4 linked regions of the Homo sapiens genome follow. The protein of the gene in region 3 interacts with the protein of the main gene of each other region in a pairwise test. Each region holds a gene or a part of one and is shown on either strand. Other genes may lie near its edges. The genes, in order: FGF12, PPIG, DACH1 and RNF14.

Region 1 (7,029 bases), on a different chromosome or scaffold from region 3:
GCCTTGCGTATCTTAAGGGCTTGAGATTCTTAAATGAGTTAAAATGTTTAGTATTTAGAGGAGTGGTTCACAAAGTTTGCTGCACACTAGAATCACCTGACATACTTTCTGAACATACTCATCCTGAGATGGCACCGCATACCAATGAAATTAGAATATTGGGGTGGAAGAAAAAAGCATATATGTTTCCTTTAGAGGTCCCTATGTACAGCAGTGTTTGGAAACCACTGATTTAGACTCTTGATAGTCAAAATGTGGTTTGCAGACAAATTTTTTAGAACTGCAGAATCTCCATATTTACTCCAGGTCTATTGAGTCAGAATTAGAATTTTGACAAAGTACCTAGGCAATTTGTATGCACATTAATGTTTGAGAAGCATGATTTGGAGTGAGGAAACAGGCTTTTTCCTTCCTTTCCTCCTTCCTTCCTTCCTTCTTTCCTTCCTTCCTTTCTTCCTTCCTTCCTTTCTTCCTTCCTTCTTTCCCTCTTCCCTCCCTTTCCCTTCCTCCCTTTCTCCCTCCCTTTTCCCTTCCTCCCTTTCTTCCTTCCCCCTCCCTCCCTTCCTCTCCTCCCCTCCCCTCCTTCCTCTCCTCCCCTCCCCTCCTTTCCTCTTCCCTCCTTTCTCCCCTATTCTCCCCTCCCCTTTCCTCTCCTCTCCTCTCCTCTCCTCTCTCTCTCTCTCTCACACACACACACACACTCTCACCTCCCACTGACCCCCACCTATATCACATTTTTCTTTGTCTAGGTAGATTTCCAGCCTCAAGCTGGCATACTACCTATAGAAACACCTGTAGAGCTTTTCAAATGTAAAGATGCTTAGGCCATACCCCTAATAATGTGAGTTTAATTAGTTCTGGGGTGGGATCTGGGCATAAGTAGTTTTAAATGGCTCCCAAGTGATGCTAATGGATGGCCAGAGTTAACCACTGATGTAGGGCATTACTGCTGGTGGTCCACAGACCAGCAGCATTTGCATCACCTGGGAGCTTGTTAGAAATGCAGAATCTCAGTCCCTACACCACATCTACCAAATCAAATCTGGATTTCAACAAAATCTAATGGTCATTTCTATGCACTTTAACATTTAAGAAGCACTGGTGTAGATCTCAGGGAACTGATTGCACCTGAGAATGAATGACACCACTCCAGGCACCTCAGTAGAGAAGATTTGATATTATCTGTCTAATCATTATGAAGGCTCATGGATATGTGATCATGTTCTAGGTCTTCTGGTTGTTTTTGGATACAACAAAAATGAAATGAAAAAGAAACTGCGTGATCTAACTCATAGTTAGATCAGAAAACAAACTTACTTTTAAATACCCTTGCTGCTCATCCTCCAATCACTTACTTTCAACCCCCAATTACCCTAAATATTTATTCTCTACATTCATTTTAAGCTCCTGACAAAGTCTGCTGTTAACTCATGGTAATGTGATGATATTTGACTACTTAAATCAAGGCACTTCTAAACAGAGTGAATATAGTTTTATCCTTTTCTATTGTCATACCTCTCTGTTCAACCCTTTTGAGATTCCTATGACCTAAGTACTCGTTTGTCCCTCACATACTGCGTTTCTTACAGTCAACATTGTAATTTTTGTGCTTTTTATTTAAACAAATATTTATTGAGCATCTGATATGTACCCAATGTGCTTATTTCTGAGAATGTGAAAGAAAACTAAGATGCAATCTCTGAACTTGACAATTTCACTCTTCTATCTTCACTAATATATTAACCTTCTCGTGGGCAAAATCTGAGCCTTTAACATTCCAGCAACCACCTAAGTGTCTATCTCAGGTAGAATATTTAAGTTTGCATAGTAGGGATTCGAATTATATGCGTTGGATAGCCTTAATTAGTTTTTTTAGGCCAACTTCATGGATCCAGAAGATTGTAAGTTGGGAGAAGTGTGGGAAACTTAGCTACCAGGAGGGCTCCCAGAAACATCAGTGTGATTCCAGAACATGGAAGGGAGTAATTTGACCCACTCTCTCAAGAGAGACCTGCACATGTATTTCCAAGGAAGATTCAATTCTTTGTTCTAGATTTCATACCAGCCATCAGAGTTCAGTCAGGGCCATGAACCAACACACTTAAGGTATAGAACAGTCATTTCTCTGAAGCCAGGATGATTTACTCTGCAGCAGAGAAAGGAAATGTCTATGCAATCATTAGTATATCAGAACTGGAAAGCGATTTTAAGAAGAGCCATTTTGTGGTTAAACAATAACAACAACAATAATAAAAGACTGAGCCAGTATAGTGAGATAAGTAAAACATAATTCAGTAAAATCATGATGTATAGTCACTGAGTGTAGGAAATACAGTTTCTTACTCCACCTGTCATGGTGTAAATTTGGACAAATCTTTTCCTCTTTGGGTCTCAAGATTCTTAAATATCAAAGGGGGTCCAGTTCATTTAATTTAAAATACCGAGTTGCCACATTGTTCCAGGCACATTATTAAATGTGGGGGACAGAGGTATAAATAGTTTATTGACTTGCCCTCTAAAAGCTTACAATGTAGGGATATATGAACAGGATCAAGAGCTGTTGATTTCTAGCATTTTATGTGTCTTCTCCATTCATCTTTCAGAGTTCTAGTAGGTTATCCGGGAGGCTAGAATATAAAGTCTTACAGTGATTAATGAGCTCCAAAGAGGCACTTAACATTCCACAGCAATAATTCCTGCCTTTTGTTTCCCCTTTGGTTTATTTAAACAAAATTATTGTGTGGGAGAACATTTGAACTCAAGCTATGTATCTACTATAAAAGCTATTCCACCTGACTAGCTACCTGCCTAACCTGTTTCTTGCTTTAGGTTATTATGAGGCTTGTTACCCTCAGTAATAGGTCTGGGGGAGGCCAACCTACTTGCCATTCCCTTATCCTTTTTCTTTTGTGCTTTTAAGTTTTTGAAGTACCAACCTTATTAGGTTTGGTGTTTTGTGCTACTGATTGACCAATAATGGTTTATTGCATCTCTTAATATTGGGTTTCCTGATTTGTCACATATTTACACCCATAAATAACGTTCGTGAAACACTTTGTACTTTTTCAAAAGGCTTTTAATATATACAATCTCCCTTAAAACCCTGTGATTTGGCATTTTAACTTTATTTTATAGATAACAAAACAAAGGATCATAAAGACTAAATGACTTAGGCAACTCATCTTACCTCTGTTTCTCTGCAAAATAAAAATTCTTATACCCATCCCAAGTGCTGTACCATAATATCATGATTATGAAATAAAACTCATGCTAATAAAGTATTTAGAACTCTTTAGAATTATAATCTGACTTTCATCATTTTTAGCTGTATCTCTCTTTACACTAGACTGTGAGATCCTGGATGGTAGAAATTGGTCCTCTGCCATTTTTGTAGTTTTAGCAGCAAGTATACTGCACGACACTCAATAAATCACCCTTCATTAACTCCCACAAAAACTTCACTTTACCAAAAGGGATTTCTTGTGTGCTTATTCTACAGTTTTAATAGTAACGTCTCCAACACCTGAATTTGTCTCTACATCTTATGGGTTTGGGGATGGAGATATATTGAGTCAAGTATTACACCTTGGATGGGTTTAAAACATAAACTGTGTAAATTCTGGCCACTAACAATGGTCTTAATCGGGGTACATCTCAGAACCACCAGACATCCTGTAATACCTGCAAGTCAGATATTTAAGAAACACTCAGGTGATGATGTATGTCCTCAATTATGAATCCATCGATAAGCTCCAAGATGGTTACTAGGAAACTATAACACATACATGTGTTCTTTATCAGGAGCACTATAGGACTTCTACTGCCTGGGCCTTGTCTTTTATTACCACCCTCTTTAGTGTTAAGAGAGTGTGTGTAGAAGAGAGATTTCATTTCTGTACTACAGACTTGGGATTGAAAATAGATATGCAAAATAGATGGCAAGAGTTTGAGGCTAAGATGACATGCCATTTTCCCCAGCATCATCTTCCTCATCTCCTTATTAGCATCCTTGCATGCAGAGCACGGTAGGATTTTTTAAGGATCTATGTCAATAGTTCTAATTTTAGCTTTCTCATCTCTCCAGTTACTTTTTGAAATAGTCTCTGTCTCCTTGTCTTTGGGAATGTGAGACTCCCACCCAGGGAGGCCGTGGTATTTAACTGCTGCGATGCTGCTGATGGCACCTAGGCAGAAGTCCCAAAGGACACCTGTTGCCCCTTCACAGATCTTTTCTTTTTTCTTTAGCGCATACTCTGCCTGGCTTTTTACCTGAAACAAGCCCCATTACTAATGATTGAAAAAGCACACATAATTGAAAGTGGGACTTTAAACTACGTGATAGAAGTAAAGGCATGCTGCCATTCTGTGGTTAGGTTTTTGTTTCTTTCTTGTTTGTGGATTGGCCATTAGCCTGAGAAGCAACCCAAAGGGACTAGACTGCAGAAAAAGAATCCAGAAACTTTCAGAGGCTGTTCAGAAGATAACTAAATGCACCAAAGAGTCCTTTACCAAGCAGGCAGGAAGAGGCAGCAATGCCAATCTCTCCCTACCTCATTCACTTCTACAATTATCACCCACGTGAAACAGGTTTTCCTCGAATCCTCCAGTACTGATAGCACTCTAACAGATTGAACAAACCTCAACACAGGTAATTTGGGAAATTTCTTTTCAGATACTTGGGAACTGAAAAATCTAGATATGCTTCCTGCTTCAAAATGTGTTGGGTTGTTTTTCTTGTTTTTCTTTTTTTTTTTTTTTTTTGCCCTTAGTCTCTTTCACATATTATAATAAATTGGGGTTAGATACTCTACAAACAAGACTATTATATAAGATTTATTATATGATCATTCTAATTGTTTAAATCTGGAAAATTTAAAATTAGACTATTTACACATTTTATCTAAAGGCTTTTCCTTCATTTCAAAACATGTTCAACATTTCTAGCACTATTTAAAATTGAATTTGGTTTACTTCTTTCTTCTGGGATTTAAAAGAGAAATATTTGCTATGTATCAAGATAAAGGTTTTCATGTAAATCACTCTTTATTTTCAAGCCTACAAATAACTTAACATGAGATGAAATGAGTACTTTTTTACTATGGGCTTTGATTTGCATCAGCATAAAAAACAAACGATTATGCAAATATAGCAAGACCCTCAATAACAATAACGTAAACATGAAGGAGACAACTAAAGCAATAGCACAGACCAATCAGTGCCAGTCTTTTAAAATGAGACCATTGGTTGATTGATTCAATAAGCAGTATTTCCTTAGAACCTGCTGTTTGTTAGCTGTTCTAAGGCTGAGCTTTTCTAACTGTAGTATGCACACTGGTGGAATTATGACATTGTATACTCTGGTGATACACTGAGGCATAAAATACACATGGTGCATGTTCCAATGAAATATAACTAATATTCTAATGTATTAATCTAACAGACTACTTAGATTATTCTAATCTAATCTATTAAATGCTAGAAGATCTGGGATCAGGTTCTCGTTCTTCTATTCCATGGATGAACCTCAGTGTACTAAACCTCTCTCTCTTTTTTTTTTTTAACTCGGTTTGCCCATTATTGATTTTTATTTTCTTGTTACAAAGAAATTGTTATTTTAAGCTTGTTTGTATTCTTTCTTGATCCTCTTTAGGCTTAACTTCTACAGAAAATAAACAGGGTGATCATAATTACCACATCAAATTTTAAGGACTCAGTGTGGGTTTGAGCTAGCTTTTTAATGCTGTGAATTGTGCAACTGAAGTTGTTGGATTTATAACTTTATTGAGGAATTAATTTGATTCTGAGTGAGAAAGCACTAAGAGGAAAAAAGTGCTACTTGGCTAAAGTTTGTATATGGCATGATTGTGACCACATAGGTAACAGGTTCATGTCTAAATTGATGGATGGCTGCAGTGGCCTTGTGGAAAAGACGCTGTCTTGGGGATCCGGAGACCTGGATTTGAATCCTAATTCCCGCCCCATCTTCAGTTTGAGCTCGTGGCTTTCTTTCTATGGCCTTGTTCTTCATCTGCAAAACAAGAGTGGATTAGAGGCAAGATTCTTTTCACTTCTGGGATTGAAAGAACCAGCATTTGTGAAGTGTTTATATAGGAACTACAGTGGATACATTCTGTTTAAAGATTTATGATCAGCTGCTTGTTCTCTCCTATCTCTTTTGGCGAACTTGATGGCATTTTTGCTTAGCAGATTGTACATTATGTTTTTATAACGTCTTTTCTTCACCCTCATATGTGTCCTCTTTACAATTAAGATGAGTTTATTTATACAACAGTCATATGTGAAGTTGATTTGGTGGATATGGTTTTCTTCTCTCTGCCAGCCCTAACCAGCACCTTCTTGCTAAAAAAAAAAAAAAAAAAAAAAAAGAAAGACTAACAGAATAATGACAAACAGTCCAAGGGCTGAGTGTTTTACTGACATTATTGATAGGAAGTCTGATTTTCTTTAGTTCTCAATCATTAGTAATATATTACTAAAAAACAATTGCACTCAATCCTTCATTGCCTTCAAACAATTTAAAAACCAATAACTATGTCTTCCAATGTTTGATTGGCTACTGATCATTTTAGATAGAAGAAGCATTTTCTACCACCAGATGAAAGCTATCCAAGGTCTAAGGGTTTCATGGTTAATAAACTGAATTTCTTGATTATGCGAAGAATAAAAGAAAGGGAAATATCTAACAGCCATTAACATGTTTATGAACATGGGTTATAATCAGAAGTGTTTATGACATAATGGTAATTATAAAAATAGTACATGTGGATATATGCACTAATTATAATGTAAAATTTGGTCATTGGCAAATAGTAGATTGTATTATGCAAAAAGTGACAATATTTGGATAATGACGATTGAATTATAAGTGGAGTTTTATCCTTTTTCACATATTTTATTACAGTTTTTTTCCCATAAAGCAGATTTTCTTTCTATGCTTTATGGGGAAAAAAACTGTAATAGGTGTTGGGTTCAGTTATAAACTTAAACAGATCCAGCTAAACTTAAAAA
Region 2 (7,029 bases), on a different chromosome or scaffold from region 3:
TTTGAGCAGTAAGAATAAGACTGAAAATTCAGGTTTATCACATCATGGAACTTATATTCTAGTGAGAGAAGATGGATATAAAAATTGAATATCAATTAGCAATAAATGCTTGGAAGAAAAATAAAGCAGAATAAGAGGATGTAAAGTGTTAGGAGGATGAGAGCTCCTTTCTTGAATACAGTAGACTAGGAATGGGCCTCTATAAGAAGGTGATACTTGAGCAACAAAGGGATGAACCATGTGAAGATGGTTTGAGAGCATTCCAGGTGGAGAGAACAGCAAATGTAAAGGACCTGATGAAAGAGTAGGCTGTTGGGTGGCAGGGGGAACAAGCAGGATACCAATGTAGCTGAAATAAAGTTGAGGAAAATATTAGAAGATGTTAGGAAATGAAAGTTGAGGAAAATGCCTAGAGGTGAACAGGAGCTAAAATATTTAGAGCCGTATAATTGAAATTACAGTAGCCACAAGCCACATGTGCTTTTTGAGCACTTGAAATGTGGCTAGTCTACATTGAGATATGCTTCAAGGATAAAATATACACTGGATTTCCAAAGACTTGTACAAAAAAAAAAAACTCAGTAACATTTTTGTTTAGTATATTTTGAAGTGGTAATAGTTTGGTTGTACAAGTTGAACATCACTAATCTGAAAATCTGAGGTCCAAAATGTAAACTTTCTGAGCATCACAATTGAAAATTTCACACATAAGTACTTAATACAAACTTTGTTTCATGCACAAAATTATTTTTTAAGTTGTATAAAATTACACATACAATTCAGGCTGTATGCATAAGGTATGTTTGAAATATAAATGAATTTTGTGTTTAAACTGTGTCCCATCCCCAGGATATCTCGTGTATGATAATATTCCAAAATTCAAAAAAAAAATCTGAAACACTTCTGGTCCCAAGCATTTCCTATAAAGGATATTCAATCTGTACATACTGAGTTAAATAGAATATATTAAAATTAGCCTGGTTTTTGTTTGATTGTTTGAGTCTCGCTCTGTCCCCCAGGCTGGAGTGCAGTGGTGCAGTCTTGGCTCACTGCAACCTCTACCTCCCGGGCTCAAGCAATTCTCCTGCCTCAGCCTCCTGAGTAGCTGGGATTACAGGCACCCGCCACCACAGCCGGCTAATTTTTGCATTTTTAATAGAGATAGGGTTTCACTATGTTGGTCAGGCTGGTCTCGAACTCCTGACCCTGATCCGCCCGCCTCAGCCCCCCAAAGTGCTGGGATTACAGGCGTGAGCCACCGCACCCGGCCCAAAATTAGCCTGTTTTTGTTTGTCAAAATGTGGCTACTGAAAAATTTTATACCTGGGTGGCTCATGTTTTTATTGAGCAGTGCTGGTCTAGAGCCTTAAAATCCATGCTAAAACTTTTCAGATGAATAGTAAGACAGTTTTAGGCAGGGGAAGGATATGATAAGGTTTGTGTTTTAAAAGAATCATTCCACTCTGGCTATTTTGTGCAGAAGAGGCAGTACAGAATTAAGAGTAAAATAAGAGAAACCAGTTAGGAGGCTATTGGAATAGCCTAGATAAGAAATGATAATGGTAAAGGTAATGAGAACTTTTGGGATAGTTTTTGAAGCTAGAGCCAAATTACCTTCCTAATGGTTTGGATAATGAGGTATGAGGGAAAGTGGAACCGAAGATGACCCCCAGGTTTTCAGCCTCAGCAGCTGGCTTGGACAATGATAATGTTTACTGAGTATTCAAGGGAATGGAGGTAGAAGAATAAAGAGTTTTGTCTTAGATATATTAATTATTTTTAATAAAGTAAATTTTTATTGAAATATAACATAGCGTACATAGCATATGAAACTGTCATTTTTAGAGTCCATCATTTTGGATACTATTTACACTTAGTGCCTTTGTTTCTTCTACGGGTAAGTATCATCTTCCACCAAGTATTACGATTCAGCATTTTAAGTCCTTAAAATAAAATGCCTTATCAAAATAATGTCTGTTAAATAATAGCTTTCTGTTATGGAAATAAAGCTGTTACACAGAGTATCTCTTTGGTATTTTTTGTGTCTATACCAGCATATCAGTAAAGGCTGTTGCTCAGAATCAGCAAGTACCCTCATATGTAAAATTGAATGTGCTTTTACTCAAAATGTAAATCTACCACATATACTATTTAACAATAGTTAAATAGTATATTAACTATATACTATTTAACAATAGTTAAATAGTATATTAACTATATACTATTCTTTTTCTTCTTACATGATTTTTGCTTCTTAAAAATCTCACATTTTAATCAGAACTCTCATTTTTGTTTTCTAGGAGCACAGGGATCAGTTGTCCTTGTTTTTTTTTGGTCTTTTCTTCATTTGAAGGTAATCTGCTTATTGAGTTCACTAATCATACAGAGTAAATACAATTTTCTGTTTGAGCTATTAATCTGTATTCCGGTTGATAAATAGAAAGTTGATTACATAATAATGGTTAAGGCTTAACTTTCAAGTCTTTTCTAATTGCTTCACAAAATGCAATCTAATCTCTAAAAAGAAAGCACTAATAATCCATGTGATTTACCTCATAGAAATAAATATCAAAATAAATTCAAACTATATTTCTAATATTGTTTCACAGAATTTTTTTTCCAGAAATTTGTGAAAGATCTTTGCTATTTTAGTCTGCTTGTCTGAAACTGTATTTTACTCACAGATTAAGTATTGGAGCCATGGGAATAAAGGTTCAACGTCCTCGATGTTTTTTTGACATTGCCATTAACAATCAACCTGGTAAGAATATTAGTTGACATTTATAAATGGGTGTTTAATATTTTAAATTAGTAAAGAAGTTTAACCAACTACCTTCTTTTTCAGCTGGAAGAGTTGTCTTTGAATTATTTTCTGATGTGTGCCCCAAAACATGCGAGAACTTTCGTTGTCTTTGTACAGGTTTGTTCACATTTTCAACTGCCCTAATAGTAGTCTCAGTTGACTATGGCTTGCTTGCTTGCTTGGTTTTTTTTTTTTTTTTTTTTTTTTTTTTGAGACAGGATCTTGCAACGTTGTCCAACTGGACTAGAACTCCTGGGCTCATCAATCCTTACACATAAGCGTCCTCAGCTGGGATACAGGTGTGAGCTACCACACCTGGCATAGCTTGCTTTAATTTTTTATTTACTCTATTTTAGATTTCTCCATGCATATTACTTTTCTCTTAACATGAAGATTACACAGCAGTGACTAGGGCGTGAAAGTAATTCTTAGAAATATTATGGCTGGGCAGCCAGGCGCAGTGGCTCATGTCTGTAATCCCAGCACTCTGGGAGGCCGAGGGGGGTGGCTCACGAGGTCAGGAGTTCCAGACGAGCCTGGCCAAGATGGTGAAACCCCATCTCTACTAAAAATACAAAAATTAGCCAAATGTGGTGGCGCACGCCTGTAGTCCCAGCTATTTGGGAGGCTGAGGAAGGAGAATCACTTGAACCCGAGAGGCAGAGGTTGCGGTGAGCCGAGATCGTGCCATTGCACTCCAGCCTGAGCTAGAAGAGCGAGACTCCATCTAAAAAAAAAAAAAGAAAGAAATATTATGGCTGGGCACGGTGTGGCTGGGCATGGTGGCTCACACCTGTAATCCCAGCACTTTGGGGGGCCGAGGTGGGTGGATCACTTGAGGTCAGTAGTTCAAGACAATCCTGTCCAACATGGTGAAACCCCATCTCTACTAAAAATGCAAATAATCGGCCAGGCGTGGTGGCTCACGCCTGTAACCCCAGCACTTTGGAAGGCCAAGGCAGGCAGATCACCTGATGTCAGGAGCTTGAGACCAGCCTGGCAAACATAGTGAAACCTCATCTCTACTGAAAAAATAAAAATTAGCCAGGCGTGGTAGTGGGTGCCTGTAATCCCAGCTACTCGGGAGGCTCAGACAGGAGAATCACTTGAACCCTAGATGGAGGTTGCAGTGAGCCAAGATCGCACCATTGCTCTCCAGCCTGGGCAACAAGAGTGAAACTCTGTCTCAAAAAAATAAATAACAAAAAATCAGCTGGGTATGGTGGTGTGTGCCTGTAGTCCCAGCTACTCTGGAGGATGAGGCGGGAGATTCGCTTGAGCCCAGGAGGCGGAGGTGGCAGTGAGCCAAGATCACTCCACTGCACTCCAGCCTGGGCGACAAGAGTGAGATCCTGTCTCAATTAAAAAAATAGAGGCCAAGTGTGGTGGCCCATGCCTGTAATCCCAGCAGTTTGGGAGGCCGAGGTGGGTGGATCACTTGAGGTCAGGAATTTTGAGACCAGCCTGGCCAACATGGTGAAATTCAGTCTCTACGAAAAAAAAAATTAGCCGGGTGTGGTGACAGGTGCCTGTAATCCCAGCCACTCAGGAGGCTGAGGCAGGAGAATCACTTGAACCCAGGAGGCGCAGGTTGCAGTGAGCCAAGATCGTGCCACCGCACTGTAGCCTGGGTGACAGAGCTAGACTCTGTCTCAAAAAAAAACCTAAAACCAAACATTAGTTGTAAAGGTATATTATTTGAGAGTGATTTCTACATTCTCCAGAAATAACGTGGGTGATTTTTTAAATGAATTTTTAAAAAAAAATTCCTGAAAGGAATGAAAATATGATTTTAAGTCTGCAGGGTTCAAGAGGGGCATATTTTACATTTATTTTGCTTTCATACTACTTTGATTTCCTTTCTATTAAATGTCCTATTTTTTTATCTCTATAGGTGAAAAGGGGACCGGGAAATCAACTCAGAAACCATTACATTATAAGAGTTGTCTCTTTCACAGAGTTGTCAAGGATTTTATGGTTCAAGGTGGTGACTTCAGTGAAGGTGAGACTTGGAAAAATCATGTATTATTTTCTGTTAAATATCACAGATCTCAAAGTTAGACAAGTCCCTAGAAGTTTTAGTCCAATATTCTTGTCACTCTCACTCCATTTAATCTTTGGTCAATTAGAAGTACTCATAGAAATATGTAAAAGAAGGAAGCTCATAGGCTGGGTGCGGTGGCTCACGCCTGTAATCCCAGCACTTTGGGAGGCCGAGGTGGGCGGATCACGAGGTCAGTAGTTCGAGACCAGCCTGGCCAACATGGTGAAACCCTGCCTCTACTAAAAATAGAAAAATTTGCTGGGCATGATGGCACGTGGCTGTAGTCCCAGCTACTTGAGAGGCTGAGGCAGGAGAATGGCTTGAACCCGAAAGGTGGAAGTTGCGGTGAGCTGAGATTGTGCCACTGCACTCCGGCCTGAATGACAGAGCAAGACTCTGTCTCAAAAAAAAAAAAAAAAAGAAGGAAGCTCATAGAAAATAATTTTGCCTTTGACACATGAATTTCAGAAATAGGCTTCTGGATACAAAACAACACTGCATTCATCTCAGTAATCTGTCAAGTGTTTCTGTTTGATTTTGTCACAAGTGGTAATCCTTACTACAATAAAAATTTTTACTTTTTTATTGTAAAAATATCAAAACTATAGTTTTAAAAAACTTTGAAAAAATGTTAACCTGTTGCAAGACCTGCATAATCATAATTAGAATCTGAAAGTTCTTTTTTAAAATATATTTTAATAGTCTTCGTCACATTCTTGCTATCATAGCATAGGGGAAAGAAAGTAATTTGGGACCTTGTCGTTATTGACATTAATATCTTTTATGATTTGCTGCAATCTTCGAATATTGTTAATTCAAAATTATTCAAAAATCTACTTTACAAGAAGTATTTTGTTTAGGTATCACCTTTGAGGAGCTTACTGAGAGTTATAAGAGTATGTTTTTCATTTTTAGGAAATGGACGAGGAGGGGAATCTATCTATGGAGGATTTTTTGAAGGTAAAAATGTTTACATTTATATTATGTTTTAAATATTTTGTCTTTTATTCTATTTTATTCTCTATGGAATCAATAACATTATTCATTAAAGGGTATACTAATGTCTAGCTGCCTTCAACTAATCTGAAGGTTAATTTTCTGGTAAAAAAAATTGCTTTTTATACAGATGGGTATTTTTTCTTCTTAGGACATTTTTACAACATGATTTGAAAGGGTTTCAATGATCTGTACTTAATTCTTAGAATTTTAATGATAGAATAGGAACTTCCGTAGGTCAATCTTAACTTTTATTAAAGGAGATTCAGCAATATTTCTTACAACATCCAAATTTTAGGTCATTTTTTCTATGAACATTTTTAAAAAATCTTTGATATTCTAAAATTTGACTATAATATTTTCCAAAAATTTAAGTTTTCTTGCTGGAATTTTTTTGTTGATGTGAAGACCATTTGGAAAATGGTCTATAAGCATATTTAATGTGGAAATAATTTAATATTTTTCATCCTTCACTTTTGACATTTAGTGAAATGTTGTTTAAAATTCTACATGATTTGTTCTTAATATTCTAACCCAAGATTGGAAAACAAATTCCTCCTTTTGCGGTAAGTGATGCTATGGCAGAGGTTAAGTTAATGAGTCCAGACTAAATAATACTCTGTGTGCTCAGAAATGAAACAGATGAAATGTAAAAGAATCTAATCTGGACTGTCTCACTCTTTTTTTTAAGAGATGGGATCTCACTGTGTTGCCCGGGCTGGAATGCAGTGGCTTTTCATGGGTGTGATCATAGTGCACTTTAGGTTCAAGCTCCTGAGCTCCAGTGATCCTCCTGCTTCAACCTGCTGAGTAGCTAGGACTACAGCCACACTACTGTGCTCAGCTGTTTCTTGCTTTTTAAAGATAGTTTCATTTTTTTATTTAAATAAAGTGGTGTTATCTTTTCCAAAAATTGTGAAGGACAAATATAAATGGAAAGGAAGGGGATTGAGATAATATTTGGGTTTTATAAGCAAATAATAGAAAATTAATAATATTTGAATCTTAAAAAGATGAGAGGGGAGGCTGGGCACGGTGGCTCATGCCTGTAATCCCAGCACTTTGGGAGGCCGAGGCGGGCGGATCACGATGTCAGGAAATTGAGACCATCCTGGCTAACACGGTGAAATGCCGTCTCTACTAAAAATACAAAAATTAGCTGGGCGTGGTGATGGGCGCCTGTAGT
Region 3 (7,029 bases):
TGTGTGTGTGTGTGTGTGTGTGTGTGTGTATGTGCGCGCGCGCGCTCAAAAGTATGGACAGGTGGCAGTAAAGATGGGGGGTGGTGGGGGTCGCGGAAGCAAGATCACTAAACGTCATTTACTCAGATAATTGGAGTTCTTGGTCGTGCAGAATGTAAAATATTTGCCCAAAATCTATATTAAAACTATTTGAATCAGGACAGGAAAATTGTTCTGGAGTTATGAAGAAAGCTAGGTGAAATTTGAAGCTAGTTCAGATACGATTGTTATAAAATTGTCTGCCTATCCAGTAAATTGGTGAATTGCTACTTTTTTTTTCTCTTTAATAATCAAACATCTACTCTCCTCGGTATCCTCTTTATGTGTTTCTTACAGCACACTAGATACTAGATAATTAAAGGCCATTTCACATACACACACGTAAACACAAAAAATTACTGGAGAAAACTTTCTTCAATGACTGCATTATAATAAATGTTATAATCAATGTTAAACTCGATTTATTCCCTGAATTTTTGCCTAGATTTGAAGTCCTCACCATGTGGTTGGAGAATATTCTTTAACTTTTAACTAAATATTTTTCAAGTTTTTTCCCCCTGAGGTTAACAACAGATCTGGAGTTTAAACTTGCAGAGCCAAGATAAGTTAAATCCAGTGGAACTGTTTATCTCTTCACAAATATCTCATCACTACTGTAATTATGTTTCAGTCACCTGGCCTTAATAATTTGCAATTACATGTGTTGCTCTAAAACCCTATTTCAAGTTATTTTTAAGTTAAAGGCGGGAAGTTTGTTGATTTAGTATTGTATTTGATCATATATCAACTAAAAAAGCTTACTCAAACTTAAATACATGCAATATTGTAGTCATTAACTTGAGAAGGTGTTTAGTTGCAAATACCTACCTTGGTTTTCCTAACTCTGCCACTGATTGAAGAAATTGAGAACTTGTAATGGAACTCCCTCTCACCAAATATACTGTTTACCCTATATTATTATTTTTAATGATTATTATAAGCATTATTGTCTTATTTCTTACCTTTGAAAGCTTTGAAATGTTTTGCATCTTGCATTTATAAAATTATGATTACTTTTTTCATTCAAGTCAAGTTTATATCTTTGCTGTGAAGAACCTTTTTTATTCACCTAGATGTATTGATTTATTTCACTTTGGTTTCTTTCTCCTCTAGCTACTTAACAGGCTAAGGGAGTAATTTATGTAGAGTATAAGAGAAGCTGAGCAAGAAGGGAAACTGTATAAAATTACTATCTATACACCCATATATGTGTGTATATAATTTATACATGCACATATCATAATTTATATACAATGAGAAACATCAAATCTTAGCACTCTCAGCTTTTTACAGAAACTATGTCTATCTCTTAATAGCATGGAATAATAATACCAGGGATTTTGAGGAACCGAAATGATGTTACAGAAAAGTAAGGTTCATAAACTTGCTCAAAGTGGCTCAGTAAGTTAGTAGCAAACCTTCGAGTGGTTTTAATTTGCTTAGGGCTATTGCATTAGTATGTTATCTATGAAAACTAGAATAAATGTTGAAGCCATCTGTCATTACCACAAGGAGGTGAAAAAGAGACTATCACCTGCTAGACAGTAAAGCTAAAAAATAAAGGTCTCAAAACATGAAAGAAATGTAAAGCTAAAAAATAAAGGTCTCAAAACATGAAAGAAATGTAAGGACATATATTTAAAAGTTGTCAAAGGACAAAGTCTGTCCTTGATCAGCTTCCTCCAATTATTATTTCAAAACTAAACATTAGTTGCATGAACTTGGCTGTTGCAACAGAGGTCAGTTAATTAACTGCTTACCATTAAATAACAACAAAAAAAGAAAAGTAATTATGTACATGGTCAAATCTCTGTTTGTATAAGTCAGTTCCCTTTTTGTAGATTTGGGTTAGGATTCAATTTTCCACGAATTCAGGTTTTAAAAAAGTGACCCTGTTTTATTATGTTATCTAAAATATTCATTTCTTTCATTGTTGTAAGAAGATAATTTTTTCTCAGGATCTTTCAAACAAGATTGTGATGTAGGTTCTAAGTAACCCTAGATTTGAGGGGTTTTTAACTTAAGTAGATTCCAGTTAGTCTTATATATTTTTTAGGCACATACATATATTCACAAACAGAATTCTTTTGTCTTAAAATACCATCCATGGACAAAATATTGAAAGTGTTTTATGTTTCAGTAGTAATATATGAATGAAATTGTAGTGTAAGAAGTACAAAACATTTTCCAACTCTTGACTCTATTTTTTTTTTTTTTTTTTTTTGGTTAGGAGTTTTAATAAAGATGGCAAACCGAACCAGTCTATATTTATTTAACATTTGCCCTGTTGCCTGGTTTTCAATGACACAGACTTATGCATTGATATAGAAAGTTTAACATAAATATAGATTCACTTCTAACAGATAATTACAATACTTGGCACAGAGAAATTAAAGAATTGCTTCAAATGAAGAGAGACTCTGCTTTTGAAGTTTTCGTATTACAGTAGATTAATGCTTCCAATAACGCCTAATGTCTCATTTTATATCATTTCAAAAAGAATAGGGCATAATTAGAAGACTAAAGCTTAAATATGAAAGTTTGCTTGGTTCCACAATTTATTTCTGTATGTTTTTAAAGTGTTAGCAAATTACACTTTAATAACTAGTGTATGAATAAAATATAAGAATATTCTAACCTAGAATTTACTTTGTTCAGTCAAATTATACTGCAGGATATAAGTTGTTGAGTTATTTGGATAATCTCTTCCAAACCTGTTGTTTTTCTAAGAGTTAGTCTCTCACAATATCGTGGTTATTTTTGTCAAAAGTGAACATGGTTATGATGATACTTTACTTTCTGAACTCCACATTTAGTTAATGCTCTGATGTAAGAAATTTGATTTGTACATATGATATTTTATTTTGTGAAGCTTCAAATATTATATAAAATAAACTACACGACAGGCTTTTTTCCTCTAGAAAAATTCTGGTATTCACATTTGACACATAGTTTTAAAATCTTCATTTTTTTAGTCCAAATCTGCTTTTTTTTTGGATTATTCTATTAAATCTCACTCCAGTTTCATGTCAACTACTGGGACAAATATTAACCACCCTCTTTTTGCCTCACTGCATCCCCCAACTCCCTGAGATGTGACACCCTATATTGACTAAAGTCTTGGCAGGATTTGAGCATAAATCACTCTTGTCTTTGGCGATTTACTACGTGTGATTCACCAGCATATGAAAACATGATATGCTTTATTGTTTCTCATTTGATGTTTTGTTTTTAGAGTATAAGTAGCATTAGTAAATTAGCTTAATGTGCAACCAAGTAGTTGTTATTTTAAGAACAATTTGTGCTTTAACTATCAATTAGTATTATTTTATCTTTCCAAGTTATTTTACTAAATTGCTTCATACAATTGCTTTTGTCAGTCAAGTAAAATAGTCATTTCGATTGCATTGTATGAGCAACATAGAAAACAACTACTGCAAAATATAATGGGAAATTAAACTCTCACAGGTTGTAAACTGTCTCCCTTTGAATCCTTGTCTGAAGAAATTAATTTGAACTATGCCTTCTAAATAGGTACAGGTGAGTCATCTAGATTTCATTAAACATTTTTATTTTAAGGTTTTTGTTACTTGGTTCTTTTAAAAAGTTAAACTTTGTTTGAATTTATCTTTCAAGTATTTCCTTTTCAGCTTGTTCACCAAAAAAAAAAAAAAAGTCACATTAAGTTATATATCTTTAGAATAACAGGAAATGTAAAAATGGATATTATTGGCTTGGGTATTTAAAAATGTAATTAAGATAAAGTTTTATCATTTTATGTTTGAATTGTTATAAAAATAGAATGACCTTAGCATATGTCAGCATGTGCCATTTTCTTACTGAGGTAATGCTTTGTGATTGGCCAGTTTAAGAGATGTATATCTGCATGCATGTGTGTGTGTGTGTGTGTACATACGTATGTCTAAATACTACATATTATATGTAGTATATTAATATATTTATATAGTATATGTAGTTTGAATATTCTAGCTAAGACTACACTTATATTTTCAGGCTTTGGGACTGCATTAAGGAGACCCTTCTCTATTATGTTTGTTATGTTCAATAATTAAATTTTTAAAGAAGAAAACTATGAATTAAGAGCCCACCTAATGGAGCTCAGATAAGTGTAACAGCAAAGGCTCTGATCTGCACAGATATGTACATCTCAGGCACAGCAGAGGCTCTGTGCAAACCTACATTTTGCTCAAATTTCTTGTTTCCTTCTTCTCAATCTGCCAAAAATATTTCTAGTAAAAAGTAATTTTTGCTACTGTGGCTGTCTTGTAACTAACTTTTATTTGCTGATATTCGCTTTTTAGCAAATGTCACATACAGGAATGACTTCATTAGGATAGTATAGTTAGTTTACCAAATTATTGCTTTGGAAAACAAGAATACCAAGGATAAGATATTTATATTTGGTCCACTAATTAGTTATTATTAGATTACTGGTGGATTACTTTATTTGTTACACCTATTTATTTTAAGGAGGTTTCTGAGAATCTGTTAAGAGTGTGTCCATTGTTGCTAGTTTTAGGCAGCTAATGATTAGCTTTATATATAAATGTACAAATGACAATGAAAAGAATTTTCAATCCACTATAAATTAGTTATTAGACAATCAATAAAAAGGTCATTGTTTTTCAAATTAATGATACAATTAAAATTAATTTAATGAATAGCAGATAAATGTCCAATTAAAAAATATATGTCACATCACATATAATGACCCAAATCACCACTTGATCCAAAGTCAAGGACCTTGAACCAAATGCATTTAAAATGTATTGGTTTATTCGGACATAGATTTCCTTTATAAGAGAAAAGCATTCGAATTCACCCATTTAAAAAAAATCATCTTTCATTCTTTCTAAATTGGACATTAAATTTGCCAATGACTGCATTGTGTTAAAGGTGTGGTCCTTTTGCTTTCTGATCCAAATTGGCTTGGAATTGATCCAGGATTTCAAGCTGGGATTCTTCTGCACATTTAAATGTATGTGACTTGATTGGAAGTTGTCAAAGACAACTCATTAAACTGGAAATCTCACTATGTCATTGTTTAATTGGTCTTTTTTTGTTGTTGTTATAAGTATATTGAAGTGTTGTAAACTACAAGCACAGCAACACACTGAATAGCCAGTTACTTTTTAAAAAAGTTTTAGAGAGTAGTGATTGATACTGAGAGAGAGACACACAGAGAGAGAGATACAGAGAGAGAGAGAGAGAGAGAGAGGCAGAGAGAGGCAGAGAGAGAGAGTGCTTAACTGAAGTATCTATAATAATGTACCGTACAGGTTGAATACAATACCTGGAATACATTACATTTTTCTAGCAGGAAGTAAAAGTGAAATAAGCCAGGCACAGAAAGACAAATACTGCATGATATCACTTACATGTGGAATCTAAAAAAGTTGAACTCATAGATGCAGAGAGTAGAATGGTGGTTACCAGGGACTGGAGAGCTGTTGGTCTAAGGTTACAAAATTTCAGTTAGATAGGAAGAAAATGTTGTACAACGTGGTGATTATATTTTCTATGATTTGAAAAATAGAAATAAATATACTTTGATTTGACTATAAGTAGATCTTTAAGAATCCTGAAGTGGATTTTGAAGATAGCCTATATTTTTGACAAAAAAAATATGGATATACTTTTAAAGCATGATTTTCATGAAGCAAATACTGCAATAGGCCACATAGTACATTGGTTGATGTTGATTGGTAACATTGAATAATTGAGAAATGTTTTTGTTTCCTTAGCGTATATGAATGGAGTGGTAAACATGAAGTATTAAAAAGTCACAGTGTTAAATGATCTTTGAATTTGTATGGTATCAAGTGTTTGTAAATAATTAGATTGCCTTTCCAGTTACAACAGGAAAAAAATAACCTTATTTTTCTTCAAGGGCAAACAAAATATATCTTAAGAAAGAAAGTGTACTACTTGAAAGGGAGATATTTTATGGAAACATACAGAAGCATTTGCAGTAAATATTTATCAATTCCATTTAAGGGATACTGGTCATTTCTTCAGTAAAGGCAATGAAAATAAATCTCTAGAATATGTTAACTAAGAAATAGTGTATTACATTCACTTATCAGGCAGATGGAGTATTTTGTTAAAATCTTAAACTGTATCCTGATATTTTATTAGTAGCAACAGTAAATGGGCTGTTTTATTCATAGTCTTATATTTTAAAGACATATTGTTTATGTATGAACAAAGTAAATCACTTAAGGTGTAACAAATCTTTGAACCCATCATAGTTCTGCTAAAATATACTGATGCATTCAACAGTATTACTTTCTATTTTATGTTTCAAATTTAGGATTTTTATTTAATTTGATTATTCAAAATGATATTATCTTCTTGAGTTAGGCACTTACACTTAAATAGTGCCTTTTGATTTTAAAAGAATAACCTGGAACACTTTTATTTTTCATAATACCTGTCACACATTTTATATGAGGATGAATGTTCTTGTGTGTGCAACAAGTGTAAAATTTTTATCAGTAGTTTAGAGAACTCTGTGGTGGATATTTTTTATATGTATTAGCATTAGCTCATTTGTACTCTATGCTTTAAATAATTGTCGTACATTTGGTAGAAAAGCCTTTACATACATGTATATGTGTTGTGTAGGAATACATTCACACACACACACGCAAACATAACATATACACCTGTAGGATGTAGGGCCACAGGACAAATAACTTAGGAAAATACAATTGGCTTTAATTTTACCTTTTTGTAGCACATAAAAACATGAAACAATACATCAATAAACAGGTCCTATTTTACTGAAATACAACAGAAAAAAAGAATTAATTTTAGAGTTAAAGAAGTAGTTTATACTTAAATATTTTAGATATAATTATGCAAGGCTATATGGTTATTAGGACAGTGATTAAAAACAGCTTAATTTTTCTAAACCTTTTTTATGAT
Region 4 (7,029 bases), on a different chromosome or scaffold from region 3:
AAAAATTTAATATTATTTTGCTGCTTGCTCAGTTATCTAATTTTCTTCCATAATATCTATGCCTGTAACATTCTCAAGCACTGTTTTCTCACCTGGGAGCAATTTTGCCTCCAACCCCCATCCTGCCCCAGGACCTGGCGCTATTTGGAGATATTTTTTTTTTTGAGACAGGGTCCCACTTTGTCACTCAGGCTGGAGTGCAGTGGTGCTATCATGGCTCACTGCAGCCTCGACCTCCCAGGCTCAAGTGATCCTCCCATGTCAGCTCCCCAAGTAGCTGGGACCACAGGCAAGCACCACCACACCTGGCTAGATATTTTCAGTTGTCACAGCTCTTGTGGGTGGAAGCGGGCCACTATTGGGTATCTAGTGGGTAAAAGCCAGGGGATGCTGTTAAGATTCTATAATGCACAACACAGCTCTCCAACAACAATTATTTACTTCAAAATGTCAATAGAGCTGAAGCTAAGAAAACTTGCCCTAAAGATTCCTGTGGATTTAAAAAATTTACTTTTTTGTTTTTTTGAGACAGAGTCTGACTCTGTCGCCCAGGCTGGAGTGCAATGGTGCAATCTCAGCTCACTGCAACCTCTGCCTCCCACGTTCAAGCAGTTCTCCTGCCTCAACCTCCCGAGTAGCTGGGATTACAGGGGTGAGCCACCACACCCAGCTAATTTTTGTATTTTTAGTAGAGATGGGGTTTCACCACGTTGGCCAGGCTGGTCTCGAACTCCTGACTGCAGGTGATTTGCCCGCCTCGGCCTACCAAAGTGTTGGGATTACAGGCACGAGCCACCGCGCCTGGCAAATTAACTTAAGAAAGGAGTGTAATATACTTTGACCACTTTTGCGAACCAGGCACATTGCTAGGTTCAGTGGACAAGTCAAAGTAAATTTGTGATTTGTCCTTTTCAAAGAAAATTTTCAAATTGTGCTTTTTTTCCTCTAATTCAGTCATAAAATATCTAACTGATAAGATCAGGAATTAGAAGTACCACAACCATCCCTTTTGAAAAAGACTGTTAATATTGCAAAACTAATGGAATGCCAGATATGGCTGTCATTTTTGGTTTAGGAGAAAAGTGATAATATCGATTAATTCTTTGCAGTTGTTTTTTGTGCCATTAAGCTTTTTCCACCTCTGTGCATTTTCTTTTCTTTTTTTTTTTTTTGAAACGGAGTTTCACTCTTGTCGCCCAGGCTGGAGTGCAGTGGCGTGATGTTGGCTCACTGCAGTCTCCACCTCCCGGTTCAAGCGATTCTCCTGTCTCAGCCTCCCAAGTAGCTGGGATTACAGGCACCTGCCACCACGCCTGGCTAATTTTTGTATTTTTAGCAGAGATGGGGTTTCACCATGTTGGCCAGGCTAGTCTTGAACTCCTGACCTCAGGTGATCCGCCCGCCTCGGCCTCCCAAAGTGTTGGGATTACAGGTGTGAGCCACCACACCCGGCCAGCCTCTGTGCATTTTCTGTTCTTAACTGATTTTAATGTTTTCAGGTCCTTATGTCGTCAGAAGATCGAGAAGCTCAGGAGGATGAATTGCTGGCCCTGGCAAGTATTTACGATGGAGATGAATTTAGAAAAGCAGAGTCTGTCCAAGGTGGAGAAACCAGGATCTATTTGGATTTGCCACAGAATTTCAAGATATTTGTGAGCGGTTAGTTAATAATTTCTTAAACAGATTTTTCTATTATTCTTTATTTCTTAGTGTACCTTAAACTATTTGTCATTTTGTGTTTTAGGCATTAGTGATAGGTGGTAGTATTACAGAGGTAATGCATGTTTCTGTTTTAAATGAAAATTGCAATGAGGGGCAAGCAGTTTTCAATTTGATTCTACCTTTTTGATCACTGAAGAGGGATATTATCCTGCATATTTCATACATCCTGGTCTGCTAACTAGCAGTTTATCAGCCATGAGTCATTGGCTGTTACATAGCAGTAATCAAAGAGAAAATGAATGTATGTGAAAACGCTTAGAAATTTTCAAGTACAGTGGTGGTGGTTAATACTATTTGGTTTCCAGAATCATTTCAACTACTATAAACATATGACACATGCTATTACTCTGTGACCTTTTGCTTCAGAAAAAACAAAACTGCTGCTTTTGATACAGACATTTACAGAAGACTTTGATGCACACTTTCTCAAAATGTTTCTACTATAAAGGGATTGAGTAAGGAAAGTAAGTGTGGTAATTTAAATGAAACTTTGATTGTGAGAGTGTTGTGTGCTATATTATATCCTCAAACCTGAGATCATTGTGTTGGCACAAATTTTCCCAACTGATTCATGGGTAGTTGGGACATGCTGGTCTAAGTGGGACATGCTGGTCTAAGTAGGTCATGCTGTTCAATGGAAATGAACATCCTTTCTCTAGATTGTGTCTTCAATCATCCACTGTAAACCAAACCACAACAAAACAAACATTGTGTGTTCCTTGGTCATTAGTGTTAGGAATTGTACTCAGAAGTGTATACAAGAATAAGTTGTAGTATTTTCATTATACATTTCATGGTGCTGTAGATTTTTCAAGGGCTTACAAGATTTTTTTTTAAGGTGGTGGCTACGAAGTTAAAATTAAGAAATAGAAAGTGCTTTGGGGGAGGGTTTTTATTCCCTCAACTAAAGCATTAAGTCTTTCTTGAGCGCTGCTCAACAGTAGTGGACACTCAAGTGTTGACCAACTGATCCTTTCTAATCTTTGTTTTTGGTTCAGGCAATTCAAATGAGTGTCTCCAGAATAGTGGCTTTGAATACACCATTTGCTTTCTGCCTCCACTTGTGCTGAACTTTGAACTGCCACCAGATTATCCATCCTCTTCCCCACCTTCATTCACACTTAGTGGCAAATGGCTGTCACCAACTCAGGTTAGACTTGAAACTTAATTTTTCCTATCCATTTTTAGAAACTTAAAAATCACCTTTAATTGAAGACTATCTTAAAGATCTTGAATTCAGTGCATGAAAAACAAATGGCTTTGGTTTTGTAATTTTTTTCCCTTGCCTTGGTGAATCCTGATGTTAAGAAATTGAAAATGTTTGGTGTTTTAAAAAGGAATGGCAGTAATTAAAACAATCATGAATTGTAGTAGGAGTAATTTTTAATCAAGTATATTATTTCTTTTCTTGTCTTGCTATTTTCCTGTTTAATCTGTATTATAATGGAGACTAAGAGGTCTTCCTCATTTTCCTTAGACATTGATACTACTTTTCTCTTAGTTTCTTATCCATTCCTTAAATGAAAGATTCCATTGTAATTAGGACTAAAAATTGAGCTAATGTAGTTATAATAAGCAAATTTTCTGAGTGAATACAATAACTGATTTTCTTTGTAAAAATCTGTATTAATAACAAATAACAGTCAACTGGTATCACGTAGACATAAATGCATACAAGTAGAAATGTGTATAGTTCCTGTAGATATCTCAGTAAGGCTTGAGGCCTTATGTTAAGCACCTCATTTCCTCTGGGTTATATATACTTTTCTAGTAACAACCTCAACTCTTGATTGAGACATAAATATGGCTTGAAGCTAAATATAAATAATATAAAGCATTCTGGGAGAGATAATGAATCAGCAGCTGCTTTTCTAGAAGTCATAATGAAGATCAATAGACTAATGTGTATTAAGACAAAAGCTCAGCCTGTGCAACATGGCGAAACCCAATTTCTACAAAAAATACAAAAATTAGCCAAGTGTGGTGGTGCGTCCCTGTAATCCCAGATACTTGGGAGGCTGAGGTGGGAGGATCACTTGAGCCTGGGTGGCAGAGATTGCAGTGAGCCAAGACTGAGCCACTGCACTCCAGCCTGGGTGACAGACAGAGACCCTGTCTCAAAAAAAAAAAAAAAAGAAAAAGACAAAAGATGTCAGAGTTGCTGACCTCAAGGAATAGCTCATTAGTTTTTCTCTTTGGATCATACAGTTTTCATTTCCCCATCCACCAATCTAATCTTTTAAGTGAGAGTACTTTCACAAACTAGAGCTTATGGTTTAAAAGCAAAATTAAACCTTAAAAAGGATAACACAGGTAGAATAAAAAGGAGTATTACTTTACATTCTAATGTCTGTGCCAGAGGCAACAGATGCAAGACAGTTGATTTGTCCAGGAATATCAAGACTGTTTGGCATTTAGGCCACTGATAGTTGGCTTAATTATTTAGATCTTCATAGTCCTATTTCACCAGAGAGCTTTTCATACTTTACATCCACGCATGTGCGTGCATGCACGTGCATGCACACACACGCACAAAACAGGGACAGATTAACTGGATGCGTGGTTGTGGTTTCAGATTCCAGCCAACCAGCATCTACTTAATGCTGGATTTGGGGGCGGAGGTGTGTGCTGGGGAAGAGAGTTGTTTTATGTGTTACAGCTAAAATTACAGTAGAATTCTTAATCAAATAAATGTTTATGCATATAATTAACATTTTAATTGGTCTCTTATATTCCTTCTTGGTTCAGTTCTTGTTTGTTGCTGTACCCTGATTCCTTGGCATTATGACTCTCACCTGTTAATGGTGAAATTGACACATAGAGCTGTCATTCCCTGAATTGGGGCGGGTAGACAGAGGGAAGTGGTTTTAGTTTTCTAAAACCTTATTCCTTATTCCTCCCCCAATATACTTACACAGTCTCTTTCCCGTCCCCCTTCCATTTACATGCATTCCAGCTGCCTTTCTCTCTCTTTTTTTTTTTTTTTTTTTTTTTTTTTTTTGAGATGGAGTCTTGCTCTGTCACCCAGGCTGGAGCACAGGGGCACAATCTCAGCTCACTACAACCTCTGCCTAGTGGGTTCAAGTGGTTGTCCTGCCTCAGCCTCCCAAGTAGCTGGGAATACAGGCGCCCGCCACCACACCTGGCTAATTTTTTGTATTTTTTAGTAGAGACAGGGTTTCACCATGTTGGCCAGGCTGATCACCAACCCCTGACCTCAGGTGATCCACCCGCCTTGGCCTCCCAGAGTTCTGGGATTACAGGCATGAGCCACCACGCCCAGCCCCAGCTGCCTCTCTTGAGAAGGGACTGGGGTAGAAAAGAGGTTGGAGAATGGCTTCTTCATAGGACTTGGTAGCTCACACAGCACTCATAGCTTCCCTTTTAGTATTTATCACATTTTACAGATGTTAGCAGATTTCTCAAAAGCATGGTTGATTTATAAGGATATTTATGCAAATGTGAAAAATCATTAGTTGTTCAATCTTAACTCATCAATAAGTATTTAAGGTAGTACCTATGCAGGGTTTAGTCAGTGGCACTACACAGAGTGTAAGAAACAGAAAATCTGGTCCCTTTTCATTTGTCATTTAAATTTACAAAATTTGTTTGCCATCTGGAAGGCATATTTTTGGATGTTTACCTAAAAAAGAAAAGCTGCTTATAATTCCTGTGCTCTAGTTAAAAATATTTTATATTTCTAATGGAAAATTCTCCAACATTTGCCTTTCAAATTGAACAGACCACTTTTAAAGAGGAAAATTCCAAATAATTTAATTTTGGTTGCTTAGCTTAGGAAGTGTAAGCTTTCTCTATGGCTGCCAAACCTTGCTGAGGGCTTGTGATTAGGACCAGGGTCAATATCAGGCAGCTTCCCTCCATTAACCAGGATCTGATATAAGCCCAGATTGCTTACTTAAAAGCAGCTTGTAAATCTGAACAAGGACTCTGAGGTTGAATTCTGTTAGTGATTGTTTCAGATGAGTTGACTTTTTGATAAAACTGAAAGAATTAATTTTAAAACTTGGATAGTATTTTTAAACTATTCTTTTTCTAACCATTATTCTAGGATACGAACAGGGCTAGGACTCCTAATGGAAGAAAAATAGTTTATTTTTAGAACTAGATCTCTTTGTCCTACATGAGGTATATGGCAGTACTAAAAGATTAAAGAACAGAAAAAAGTCTTCCATTTCAGTGGCTAAAATGTACAGCTATTTCTCTACCTTACGGAGTCTTGCTATTTCTCTTCTTCTCGTGGTACTTCTTGCTTCTGACTTTATGTTCTACTCTGGCTCATGTTGCCGAATAGTTTAAGAAGTGCTCCAGTAAGAATGTTTGTACTGTTTTGTATGTAGCACAGTGTATCACAGCAGTAAAAAATAGTGTTAGAATAAGGGCCTAACTTGCAAGTGGAAAAGATTTCTAGGGAAACCAGGAGTTGGCAGCAGCATCATCTTTCCAAACTCACCAACATCTTCATGTGTTTTCTCCTAGCTATCTGCTCTATGCAAGCACTTAGACAACCTATGGGAAGAACACCGTGGCAGCGTGGTCCTGTTTGCCTGGATGCAATTTCTTAAGGAAGAGACCCTAGCATACTTGAATATTGTCTCTCCTTTTGAGCTCAAGATTGGTTCTCAGAAAAAAGTGCAGAGAAGGACAGCTCAAGCTTCTCCCAACACAGAGCTAGATTTTGGAGGAGCTGCTGGATCTGATGTAGACCAAGAGGAAATTGTGGATGAGAGAGCAGTGCAGGATGTGGAATCACTGTCAAATCTGATCCAGGAAATCTTGGACTTTGATCAAGCTCAGCAGATAAAATGCTTTAATAGTAAATTGTTCCTGTGCAGTATCTGTTTCTGTGAGAAGCTGGGTAGTGAATGCATGTACTTCTTGGAGTGCAGGCATGTGTACTGCAAAGCCTGTCTGAAGGACTACTTTGAAATCCAGATCAGAGATGGCCAGGTTCAATGCCTCAACTGCCCAGAACCAAAGTGCCCTTCGGTGGCCACTCCTGGTCAGGTAACTGTTTACCCTGCTGATGGTTGCCTCCTAATTCTCTTCCATAAATGGAGATATCATCTCAGGAACTTCCTTGATAGGGCTCATGGGGCAGTCCGAGGCCTTGGAGCCAGCCCACAAGTTGTTTTGCTGTATCCATTAAAAATGCTATGGTCTTAGTCTACTGCTTAAGCAAATGGAATGCTTCCTTTGGCCTTGCAGTGGGCAAGGATGAGTGTTAAAGTAGTTATTAAGTAATTGTGATAATTTACTTTGTATATCTGCTAGTAGGATCCCATAAAC

What was found.
Region 1: the proteins of DACH1 (region 3) and FGF12 interact in binary tests that used the Homo sapiens proteins (3 or more experiments, as listed by UniProt).
Region 2: the proteins of DACH1 (region 3) and PPIG interact in binary tests that used the Homo sapiens proteins (3 or more experiments, as listed by UniProt).
Region 4: the proteins of DACH1 (region 3) and RNF14 interact in binary tests that used the Homo sapiens proteins (3 or more experiments, as listed by UniProt).

The regions. Positions count from the first base shown.
Region 1 is NC_000003.12:192,717,519-192,724,547, reverse strand, and holds part of FGF12 (fibroblast growth factor 12), read left to right. Parts: intron 1-7,029. UniProt on the Homo sapiens protein: Involved in nervous system development and function. Involved in the positive regulation of voltage-gated sodium channel activity. Promotes neuronal excitability by elevating the voltage dependence of neuronal sodium channel SCN8A fast inactivation.
Region 2 is NC_000002.12:169,601,342-169,608,370, forward strand, and holds part of PPIG (peptidyl-prolyl cis-trans isomerase G), read left to right. Parts: intron 1-2,300; 5' UTR 2,301-2,353; intron 2,354-2,684; 5' UTR 2,685-2,700; coding exon 2,701-2,761; intron 2,762-2,845; coding exon 2,846-2,920; intron 2,921-4,697; coding exon 4,698-4,805; intron 4,806-5,762; coding exon 5,763-5,807; intron 5,808-7,029. UniProt on the Homo sapiens protein: PPIase that catalyzes the cis-trans isomerization of proline imidic peptide bonds in oligopeptides and may therefore assist protein folding. May be implicated in the folding, transport, and assembly of proteins.
Region 3 is NC_000013.11:71,857,181-71,864,209, reverse strand, and holds part of DACH1 (dachshund homolog 1), read left to right. Parts: intron 1-7,029. UniProt on the Homo sapiens protein: Transcription factor that is involved in regulation of organogenesis. Seems to be a regulator of SIX1, SIX6 and probably SIX5.
Region 4 is NC_000005.10:141,972,084-141,979,112, forward strand, and holds part of RNF14 (E3 ubiquitin-protein ligase RNF14), read left to right. Parts: intron 1-1,499; 5' UTR 1,500-1,505; coding exon 1,506-1,659; intron 1,660-2,720; coding exon 2,721-2,872; intron 2,873-6,219; coding exon 6,220-6,747; intron 6,748-7,029. UniProt on the Homo sapiens protein: E3 ubiquitin-protein ligase that plays a key role in the RNF14-RNF25 translation quality control pathway, a pathway that takes place when a ribosome has stalled during translation, and which promotes ubiquitination and degradation of translation factors on stalled ribosomes.